2 separate regions of the Homo sapiens genome follow, and region 2 is linked to region 1. The links come from fine-mapping of genetic effects on gene expression. Tissue or cell type: esophagus mucosa. Region 1 holds a variant in brackets; the other region holds the start of a gene. All regions are shown on one strand. Distances are between the middles of the regions.

The links. PIP is the estimated chance that this variant, and not a neighbour inherited with it, causes the effect.
Region 2: SS18L1 starts here. The variant in region 1 is fine-mapped to the expression of SS18L1 in esophagus mucosa (GTEx, PIP above 0.99). The same link has a PIP of 0.9 or more in sun-exposed skin and unexposed skin.

What each region holds. Positions count from the first base shown.
Region 1 is chr20:62,102,008-62,107,148 of GRCh38, reverse strand. It overlaps LOC105372706 (a long non-coding RNA gene), which reads left to right. Exons shown (of 3, transcript XR_936963.2): 3 at 4,266-5,141. Among named protein-coding and RNA genes, the nearest start is that of LSM14B, 18 kb to the left of the region's middle. The variant C/T (reference allele first, on the strand shown) is at 2,774.
Region 2 is chr20:62,140,990-62,146,130 of GRCh38, reverse strand. SS18L1 (SS18L1 subunit of BAF chromatin remodeling complex) reads right to left here and starts at 2,362. Exons shown (of 11, transcript NM_198935.3): 1 at 2,242-2,362. The coding sequence starts at 2,310. PSMA7 (proteasome 20S subunit alpha 7) reads left to right here and starts at 2,737. Exons shown (of 7, transcript NM_002792.4): 1 at 2,737-2,923. The coding sequence starts at 2,828. RefSeq lists silencers at 1,886-1,935, 1,966-2,025, 2,146-2,855, 2,896-3,535.

The DNA.
Region 1 (5,141 bases):
AAACTGCATGGCAAAGGTCCCGTGGCAGAAGGGAAGATGGCACCTCTGGGGAGCTAGAAGGAGACCAGAGTGGCTGGAGGGGCAGAGGTGTAGGTGGCGTAGAGTGAGGTAAGGCTGGGAGGGTTAGGGTGGGAGAGTGGGGGCACAGGTATGGGTGGGCCAAGGAGAGGCTGGGCAAGGGGCAATGGGGAGCTTCAAAAGGTTCGAGTGAGGCCCCTTATGTCTGAAGACCAGGCAGGGACATCTCTGCAGAATGCATCCCAGGGCAGGCCCAGTCCCCAAGAAGAGCTCGAGCAGAACACTTTTTTATCTTTTTTTTTTTTTTTTTTTTTTGAGACAGGATCTCGTTCTGTAACCCAAGCTGGAGTGCAAGGGTGCGGTCACAGCTCATTGCAGCATCGACCTCCTGGGCTCAAGTGATCCTCCTGCCTTAGTCTTCTGAGTAGCTGAGACTACAGACATGTACCACCATGCCCAGCTGATTTATTTATTTATTTGAGACGGAGGTTCACTTTTGTCACCCAGGCTGGAGTGCAATGGCGCGATGTCGGCTCTCTGCAACCTCTGCCTCCTGGGTTCAAGTGATTCTCCTGCCTCAACCTCCTGTGTAGCTGGAATTACAGGCGCTCACCATCATGCCTACCTGATATTTTTATTTTTGTACAGACAGGGTCTCACTATGTTGCCCAGGCTGGTCTTGAACTCCTCTGCCTCCCAAAGTGCTGGGATTACAGGCGTGAGCCACCATGCCCGGTGTCATCATCTTAATGATTAGAACATTGCCAAGTCCACAGGGGTTCAAACATGGTTGATTTATCACTCTGGTAGTGAGTCTAGTTCAAAGTCAGCATTAGCCTCTTGAATTATTTATAAGCTAAATGTGTAAACATGAAGAATTTAAATAACAATGTAAGGTTATTTGTAATTATGTCCAGAAATAAAGGTTATAGGCAAGAACTTCTTGAGAACAAAGAGAAAGAGAAAAGTAATGTGAGAAAGGCCTTTGGATAAAGGTTTTGGGGGTGTAAAAGGCAACAACCCAGTCCTAAGAAAATAGAGTTGAACTGATATTCAGCTACACACGCATCTATCCATGCATCCACCCACGCATCTACTCATCTGCCCATGAATTTGCTTATCCTTCTATTCATGCACATATCCATCTATCTACCTACCCACCTATCTGTTCATTCACCCATCCATCTGCCCATCCATCCATCCATCCATCTGCACATCCATCCATCCATCCATCCGCCCATCCATCCATCCATCCATCCATCCATCCATCTACCCATCCATCCATCCATCCATCCATCCATCCATCCATCCATCTGCCCATCTATCCATTCATCCATCCATCTGCCCATCTGTCCATCCATCCATCCATCCATCTGCCCATCTATCCATCGACCCATCCATCCATCCGTCCGTCCATCCATCCATTCATTTCTATTATTCATTCATACATTTATGCATTGTCTTGGGTCTGGAAACACAATAATGAACTGAACACAACAGGGCTCTCCCTTGCGGAGCTGGCAGAGATCAGCTGCAGCTGGTGGCAGAGACCAACGTATACCCAAGTGTGTGCTTGAGATGGGGTAAGGCTTCTTGATAGGCAGGTGCAGGCTGCAGGGAGGTGGGGGGAGCAGGATGGGGGCGCTGCTCCCTCTAGGAAGGTGAGAAGGCCTCCCAAGGAAGGAGCCGGTGTGATGGGGCTTCTCTCTGCTCCCAGCAGACGCAGACCCTCCCCACACTGGCCTGTCCGCTCCTCCTCCTCCTCCATCTGGGGCCTTTGCTCAGCCCATGGTCTTGTCTGGAAAGCCACCTCCCCTCTACCTGGCTGATTTCTGCCCGTACTCCCACCTCTTCCAGGAAGCACTCCCTGATTAGTATCCACGTGACCTGTGTTTCTCAGAAATGCTAAGAACATTCACTGTTTGGATGAAGAACACAATATTTTTTTTTCTTTCACATGCACTGGATGACTTCACCGTGTTTACTGTCTTTGGTTTTGTTCCAAAGTGGTTGTAAAAGTTGGGCCTGAGATGTGCAAACATCATTCTTGGTTGCTGTTTGTGCGCCTGGCTGAGTCCAAGTCCTTACAGGCAGTCCCTCCTGCCTCCCGTGTATCCCTCACTCCCACCTCCCCCAACACCTAACTCTTCCTCCTTTCCCAAGGGCTCCCTCCCACCTCCCCCTCCTTTTCTCCACCTCCCCTGCCTCCCACCTCCTCTTCCCATTCCACCCATCTCTTGTCTCCTTCCTTCCACACGGCTCCTCCCCCGGCCCCCCTGGGCTCCCTTCCCTTCTGCTGAGTCCTCTCCTGGGAACTTCAGCTTTCCCCTCTCTTCAGAGCCATCCCTAGTAGCCCCCAAGTATCCTGCAATTTTGTCCACTCTAAACCCCCCTCCCGTAACCCCCTATCCCCGGCAAGCTTGCCTCCTGTTTTCTGCAAACGCCAGAGGAACTGCCCCTGCAATCACTGCCATTCTGCCACAAGCTGATGCTGTCGTGGTCAAGGTCACCCATGACTTCCTGGAGATTAAGTCCCTTAAGCTGTCCTCTGGGGTGGGGAGGGGCAGCTCGGCCACAGTCCCCCCTCCTACTGCTGCCGGGCTCCCCAACATCCCCTGGTTTCCTCTCTCTGCTGGCCCCACTTCTAGTCTCCCTCGGGTTCCTCCTGGGGCTCAGCGCCCAGTCCTGGCCTGGCCATGTGCAACCTCACCACGTGGGGGCTTCTCCCTGAGCTGCAGCCCCCATGGCTCCCGGA[C/T]CGCAGGTTCCCGTCCCCCTGGGGCTGCGTGCAAAGGACTGCAGTTCTGATGCCAGGGATGCAGATCTGTCTCCACCCGCCCCAGTGGCATCGGTCCCCACCACCAGTGCTCAGGCAAAGGCCCTGGAGCTCTCCATGACCCCCACGTCGTTCTCTCACAGCTGGGGCCAGGAAATCTCAATGCCTTGACTTTCAACACCTATGCAGAATCCAACGACACCTAACCTGCAGCCACACGGCCCCCGCCGCGGCCACCTTGCTTGTGTTACAGGAGGAGCCTCTGCCTGGCCCTCCTCTGCCCTGGCCCCTCACCTGGTGCACACAAGGCCAGGGGGGATCCCTTCCGGAATGTGGAGAGGCCTGGGGATCTGCCCAACCGCCCACCTCCCTGTTCCTCCCCCTTGAGGTGCCACTCGGGTCCCCCTGCTGTCCCCTGAGGACACTCCTGCCTTGGTGCCCTCTCATCTGCTGCCCCTGCCTGGAGACTCTTCCTCCAGACCCCACGTGGCTGGGCCTCAGCCTCCTCTGCTCTCGGAGAGGCCACCCGGCTCAAATGGCAAGCAGCTCCTCCCTGCCACCCTGGGTCCACCCTGCACTCAACCCATCTTTGCCTCATGTTCTTTCTGGCTCCCCGGCTGGCATGCCTACCCCGTGAGGGTGGCATGCGTCCCCAGCTCCCACAGCAGGCACGGAGGGGCACCAGCCCAGGCCTGAGGAGTGAAGGGCTCCGAGGCTGCCCCTGCACAGTGGAGGGGAGAAGGGGCCTAGAGCTGCCCCACAGTCACCCTAACTCCCTCGGCCCAGGGGTCATAGACTCACTAGTAGGAACGGTGCTAATGCTGGGGAGCGGGCAGATTTGAGGGGCACAGATCCTACCCCAGGGGGTGGGGCAGTTGTCACCCCAGGCCATTTTTTAAAAATTAAAAGTAAATTTTTATTTTACAGATAAATACATTGACACTCAGAAAAATGAAGTGGCTTGTCAAGAAGCCCCAGCTCTAAGCAGACAGACAATGCTGCTTTGTGGGAACTCGGCTCCAGAGCTGTTTTTTCTTTTTTTGAGACGGAGTCTCACTCTGTCGCACAGGCTAAGTGCAGTGGTGCGATCTCAGCTCACTGCAACCACCGCCTCCTGGGTTCAAGTGATTCTCCTGACTCAGCCTCCCGAGTAGCTGGGATTACAGGCATGCACCACCATGCCCAGCTAATTTTTTGTATTTTTAGTGGAGACAGGGTTTTACCGTGTTGGCCAGGCTAGTCTTGAACTCTTGACCTCAGGTGATCCACCTGCCTTGGCCTCCCAAAGTGCTGGGATTATAGGCGTGAGCCGCTGTGCCTGGCCCAGAGCTGGTTTTTAAGAGGAGCTGTGTGTTAGGCTGTGGGGTTTTTTTTGTTGTTGTTTCTTTTTTTTTTTTTTTTTGCATTGCTATAAAGAGATACCTGAGGCTGGGTAATATAAAGAAATAAGTTTAATTGGCTCACGGTTCTGCAGGCTGTACAAGCATGGCATCGCCAGCTGCTCGGCTTCCGGGGGTCCTCAGGGAGCTTCCACTCAGGCAGAAGGGGAAGCAGGAGCAGGCACATTACCCGGCGAGAAGAGGAACAGGAAAGAGTGCGGGGCGGTGCCACACGCCTCTAAACAATCAGATCTTGGAGAACTCACTATGGCAGGACAGCACCAAGCCACGAGGGATCTGTCCCCAGGACCCAGACACCTCCCGCCAGGCCCACTTCCAGCACTGGTAGCCACAGTTCAACAGGAGATTTGGAGGGGATGAACATCCAACCTATAGCAAGCTGGAAGTCTGAATGTGACGAGAAGTCTCCTGATTTTGTTTGTCGGCTACTCCTACAACTGCCCCATAACACTGTGCCCCGGATTCTTCCCGAGGTGGGAGGACCGAGGGCAGAGGCTCCTGGCCCAGTCACCCAACCCCACTTCCGGGCTTCAGCTCTTGGGCCAGGTGGGCACACTCTGTCTTCTTTTTCTTGTGCAAGTGACATCCCAGGTGCCATTTCTCGAGGTTGCCAGGCTTCCCAGCCTCTGGCTCCTGCTTGTGTCTTTGTAGGGGAGGTGGCTATGATGGTGACAGCACATTCGAAGCAGCAGTGGTTACAGTTTCCTTCTAAAAATACATTGAAGACAGAGTCAAATGTAAGGGGGTGACTTCTGGTTCAGCACAGCGTGCAGAGCACACGCTTCTCCCTGGATCTTGGACCACAGAGGGGACACTGCTGACCTTGCTCCTCTGGGGCATCCCCTCCCTAGACTCACGGGAGGACCACAGAGGACACGGCTGACCCTGCTTATCTGTGGGCATCTCCTCTCTGGCTCAGCTGGAAGACAGACAGCTGGGCAGTACCAACT
Region 2 (5,141 bases), 39 kb before region 1:
CAAGGTGTAGACCTCTTTCTCCTTCACTACCAAGCAGAATGCTGTAAGGACAAGTTGTAGACCTCCTTCTCCTTCACTACCACGCAGAATGCTGTAAGGACAAGTTGTAGACCTCTTTCTCCTTCGCTACCACGCAGAATGCTGTAAGGACAAGTTGTAGACTTCCTTCTCCTTCACTACCACGCAGGCTTCAGAGGGGTCCCTGGCTTCTCTTAAAGCTCTCGGCATGACACTACCAGCACACACTGTGGACACAGCACACGTCTGAGGCATAGAACATACACCTCTCACACCTTTCTCAGCCTTCTCACACCTCCCAGTAAAAGATCCCTGGGTACATATATTCACCGTCAAAACACCAAGCCCAATACGCAGACTGCTGGCCCTACCAAGCCAAGTCAGCAGCCTAAACTGAAGGCCTATTTCCAATGGTCAGCAGGCTGAGTTTCTGCCCAGGGACCCACGGTCCACAGGTGCATTTCTTCCTTTCTGATCTGATGTTCGGGGCAGCACCTCAATACACACTTTTACCTGGAGAATTTGGGGAGCTTCAATGGAACTGTGTGCGAAGTGCAAATAATGGGATAAACGTTGCAGCCAAAGGTAGCTTCAGGAACAATGACTGTTAAGCTCCAAAAAACCAGAGTGCCAGGAGATGCTCTGGGTTCCAACATTTGCCTCTGAGCCTAGAGCTTGACCTCCGCCTGGCCAAATGTTCCCAGATCAAGGGGCACCAACAGAGCAGACCCTGGAGCCACCGTATGGGATCGACACCTGGCTGTGCCACTTACCAGCAAGGCATTTAGCCCCCCTAGGCCTCAGTGTCCACTTACCAGCAAGGCACGGCCTCCCTAGGCCGCAGCCTCTTTAGCTATTAAACGGGATGCCAGTAGCTTCTATGAAGAATTGGATGAATCAAGATTTATAAAACCCCTAGAACAGTGTCTGGGATACGGTAAGCGCCACATAAGTGTTTACTAAGTAAATTAAAATGCCACACTTGTAAATCTGTATTTCTGCTATTCTCAATCTCTCCTGTTCAGAGTTGGCCAAGGTTCTCATTTGTTAAGACCATCAAATTTCTAAAACTAGCAACAGCAAAGGTAGTCTCAAAATAGGCGATAGATTTAGGACAACTTCCACAGGAGACTGGCACGTCATCAAGGAATAACAGCCTCAGTCAAGGTCAAGGTGAACCCCCTTAGGGAGACAAGCGGCTCCTGGGAACCTAGGAATACCACTGTTTATCCCTGCAATCCCACCAGGGTGAAGACGGAGTCAGAGTTTAGGAAAAAAAACCAATGTCATTCCAACAGATGTTGTGACAACTGAAACGGGTATGGCTAATGCTGATTTTCTTCCGAATCTGTCTTCTACAGAAAAAACAGCAGAAAATACAAAGTCTCAATTTCAAAACTTAGGGCTTTGGATAACGGTGTCCCAAACCCACATAAACGCTGTCTCTTGAAAACCACAAGGCCGAACTTACGGAGCTAGAAGAAAGGTTGTGGAGCAAATCCGTCAAGTTTGTTAGGCGAGGCGGCTGGCGAGGGTGTCACGCTGAAACCCGGCGTAGCCGCGAGGATACGGAGGGGGCGGTGCGCTCCCTACGGGGCCGGGCTGCGTAACGATGCCCCGCAAATGGGGATCGGGACGCGTCCTTCCGTGCCTCCATCGTTCGCGCCTCGCTCCAGGAGCAAGAGGGGCAGCCCCGGCCACAGTCCCCGCGGTCGCAAGTGCGCCCGGAGGCCGACCCGGGCCCCTCACCACTAACCAAAATGAGCGCAGAAAACGAGTACCGCCCGCCGTCGCCACCGAAGCTGGCTGCGGAGCGCGACAAGCCCTCGCCGCGGCTCCGGCCCCGAGGGGTCCCCGTGCGCCCGGCATAGCCCAGGACAGTTCCCAGCGCGCGCCGCGGACTCGGGGGACAGCGCGCTCGGGGGCCGGCAGCCTCCAGCGTCCGCCCGGCCCCCACCGCCCAGTGCCCCGGCCCGAGGGACCCGCGCGCCCCAACAAAGTTGGCGCAGGCTCTCCGGGGACCGCCCCCCACACGGCCGGGTGCCCGCCGGCGCGCAGGCGTGGGACGCGGGGAAGGGCACGGGGCCGCCGTCGGGGCTCGCGGCCGCCCGGCTGCGCCCCGGCTTTGTTCGCGCCCCGCGCCCGCCAGCTGCCCGCGCCCCGTCCCCGCGCGCGCCCGCCCGCAGACCCGCCGCCCAGCGCCGCCGCTCCGGCCCGGCCCACCTTCTGGATGGTTTGCTGCGTAACCTCCCCTTTGCCTCTTGGCCGGGCAGACGCGAAGGCCACGGACATGGTGGCGGCGCGGGGCTCAGCCCGTGGTCATCGAGGTGGATACTCCGGCTGCGCTGGGCGGCCCGAGGCGCTCATTATCCGCAGTCGCGGAGGGGGGGAAGGGGGCGGGAGCGCGGGGGGCGCCGCGTCGTGGGCTCGTCCGCCCCGTCGCCGTCGCCGCGCCTCCGGGCCCGCGGCGCCGCCGCTCCGCCCTGCAGAACGGTCTGCGGCCCAGTGCCGAACGGTGGCCCCCGGCGACCCCCTCGCACCCAGCGCCCGGCCCTCGCCGGAGCACCGCCTCCCACCCCCGGCCACCGGTGGTTCGGCCTGACCCCGCCCCGGCGCGCGCCATCACGTCCGCCCGACGCCGCCTGACGCTGCCCGTCGCCGCCTGACGCCGCCCGTCGCCGGCAGCGCAGGACACGGCGCCGAGGGTGGGGCGCGGGCGTAGTGGCGCCGGGAGTCGCGGGTGCGCGCGGGCCGTGAGTGTGCGCTTTTGAGAGTCGCGGCGGAAGGAGCCCGGCCGCCGCCCGCCGGCATGAGCTACGACCGCGCCATCACCGTCTTCTCGCCCGACGGCCACCTCTTCCAAGTGGAGTACGCGCAGGAGGCCGTCAAGAAGGGCTCGACCGCGGTGAGGCGGCGGGGCCTGCGCGGGGCCGGGGACGCGGGCGGAAGTGGGGCTGGGGAGCCCAGAGAGGGCCGGGGCCGGGCGCGGCGCTGTGGGCGCCCGCGGGCGTGCGCGGGGCAGCGGCGCGGGCGGTCAGGGCTGTAGCTGAGCGCGGGCCCCGCTGCCGGTCTCCACGAGTGCCTGCAGAGGCGGCGTTTGGCGTGAGCCGCGAGCGCTCGTTCTCCCCACTCAGCGCCTCGCTTGGGGCCCGGCCTCGCGTGGGGCCCCGGGCACGGGGGCCGTGACGACGCCATCTTGAGCACCCCTGGCCCCGGCCGGGCGCGTGGGTCGCGCCGCCGCCCCGGCGAGCAGAGGCCGGGCGAGGGCCGCTCTGGGCCGCGGAGCGCGGGGGGTAGGCCGTGCGCTCGCTGGGGGGCTGTTCACGCAGCCGGGTGGCTGGGGAGCGAACTACTCAAACCCCCCTTATGGGGACCCCCACCCGCTCCGGGGCAACACTTATTCTCTAGGCCCAGGTGGGCTTCGAGAACAAAGCGGCTCGCTGGCCTGGCCGGTGGCGGGCGCCTCCCAGGTCTCCGCACTCTGCCGGGAGGAGCCTTCCCGGGGCCGGGCTGCAGCCGCCCGGGTCAGGACTGGTTTGGACGCGGCCGTTTCGTTTTGACGAGGGCTCGTGTACATTGACCTTAGTGACATTGTTTGAAACTTAAATTCGTACCATCAAGACGTGTCAGTTTAATTGGTCAGTCTGTGAGATCGTTATTCTTTTATCATCTGGTATTCAGAGGTTTGAGCAGGCAGAGAAAGCAGCACACACGGTTCTGTAAATTTTGATTTGTTTTCATTTTCTGAATCTTTGTTTTGAAATGAAGGCCCAGTATTCATCAGGTGATCTAACTCAGCTTAAAGAGGACTAGGAGTCGGCTGACCCCTGTACCCACCCCAATACTGCCACCCCCGCCAGCTGGCCGCCGCTGGCTTTAACGAACCCATATAGCTTCTCTGGGCCTCGAGTCAGTCGAAGGTCAAGTGAGTCAGTACCTGAGAAAGCTCCCAGAAAACCCAAACACTTCAGATCAATACTTCTCAGCCAGGGATGGTTTTGGGCCCACACGGAGCCACTGGCAGTGTGTGGAGACTTTTCCAGTGGTAAGACCTTGCAGAGGTGCTCTTGGCATTTGGAGGGTAGAGGCCAGGGACGCTGCTCAATATCCCACCCGTGCTCAGGGCGGCAGGCACAGGGAGATCCCCCTGCCCAGGTGCTCACAGTGCTGAGCTGGAGAAGCCCTGCTCTAAACCAGGAGGCGCTGTTTATCCCAATGATGGTTCCCTTTGTTTCTGGCTTGACTCGGGTTGACTGTCAGTGATTGTTCATGCTTTTAATAACAGCCATATCCTTCTCCAGCATCAGCCATAAACAGTTTGGGATAACACTTGACACCTTGTCCACTGACGGCAAATCAGGCCCCTTCTCATGGCTGTCACATGAGTATGTCACAGTGCAGGAAACAGTGCATTGTGGCTCAATATAATTTCACAACTACAGAAACACTGCCTTCAGAACACCAGACTTGAGTGAAAGTCTCAGGCTTCCAGGCTTTGCATGGGACTGATTCATTGGGTTGAAAGGAAACACATGCCGATTATATAATGGTTACTTACTAGCTATGTTGTAACTAAAACTACATCTCAGTATTTGAAAGGCCCAGGTTGGGCACCTAGGTGAGCACGCCTGGGCTAGCTCTACCAGCAGTAGATGAATACCCCTGGGTTTGCAGGATGTGGTGCCAGCCACAGTGACAGACAAGTAGAGGAGAAAGGGGTGTGGGTGAACGCACCTTCCAGTGGGAGCTGCTACCCGGAGTACGTACCCCCCAGGACCCAGGTTCAGATCTGCTCCTACTGCTCGCTGCCTGGCAGTAGAACCATGTATCACTTTTTTGGGAGGATAGGGTGGGGTGAGGGGACAGGGTCTTGCTGTCTCTGTCTCCCAGCCGTCATGGCTCACTGCAGCCTCCACCTTCCAGGCTCTAGCGATCCTCCCACCAGCCCCCACAGTAGCTGGGACTACAGGCTTCAGCCACCACACCTGGCTAATTTTTGTACTTTTTGTAGAGACAGGGTTTTCCCATGTTGTCCGGCTGGTCTTGAACTCTTGAATTTAAGTCATCCACCCACCTCAGCCTCCCAAAGTGCTGGAATTAACAGGCATGAGCCACTGCACCCA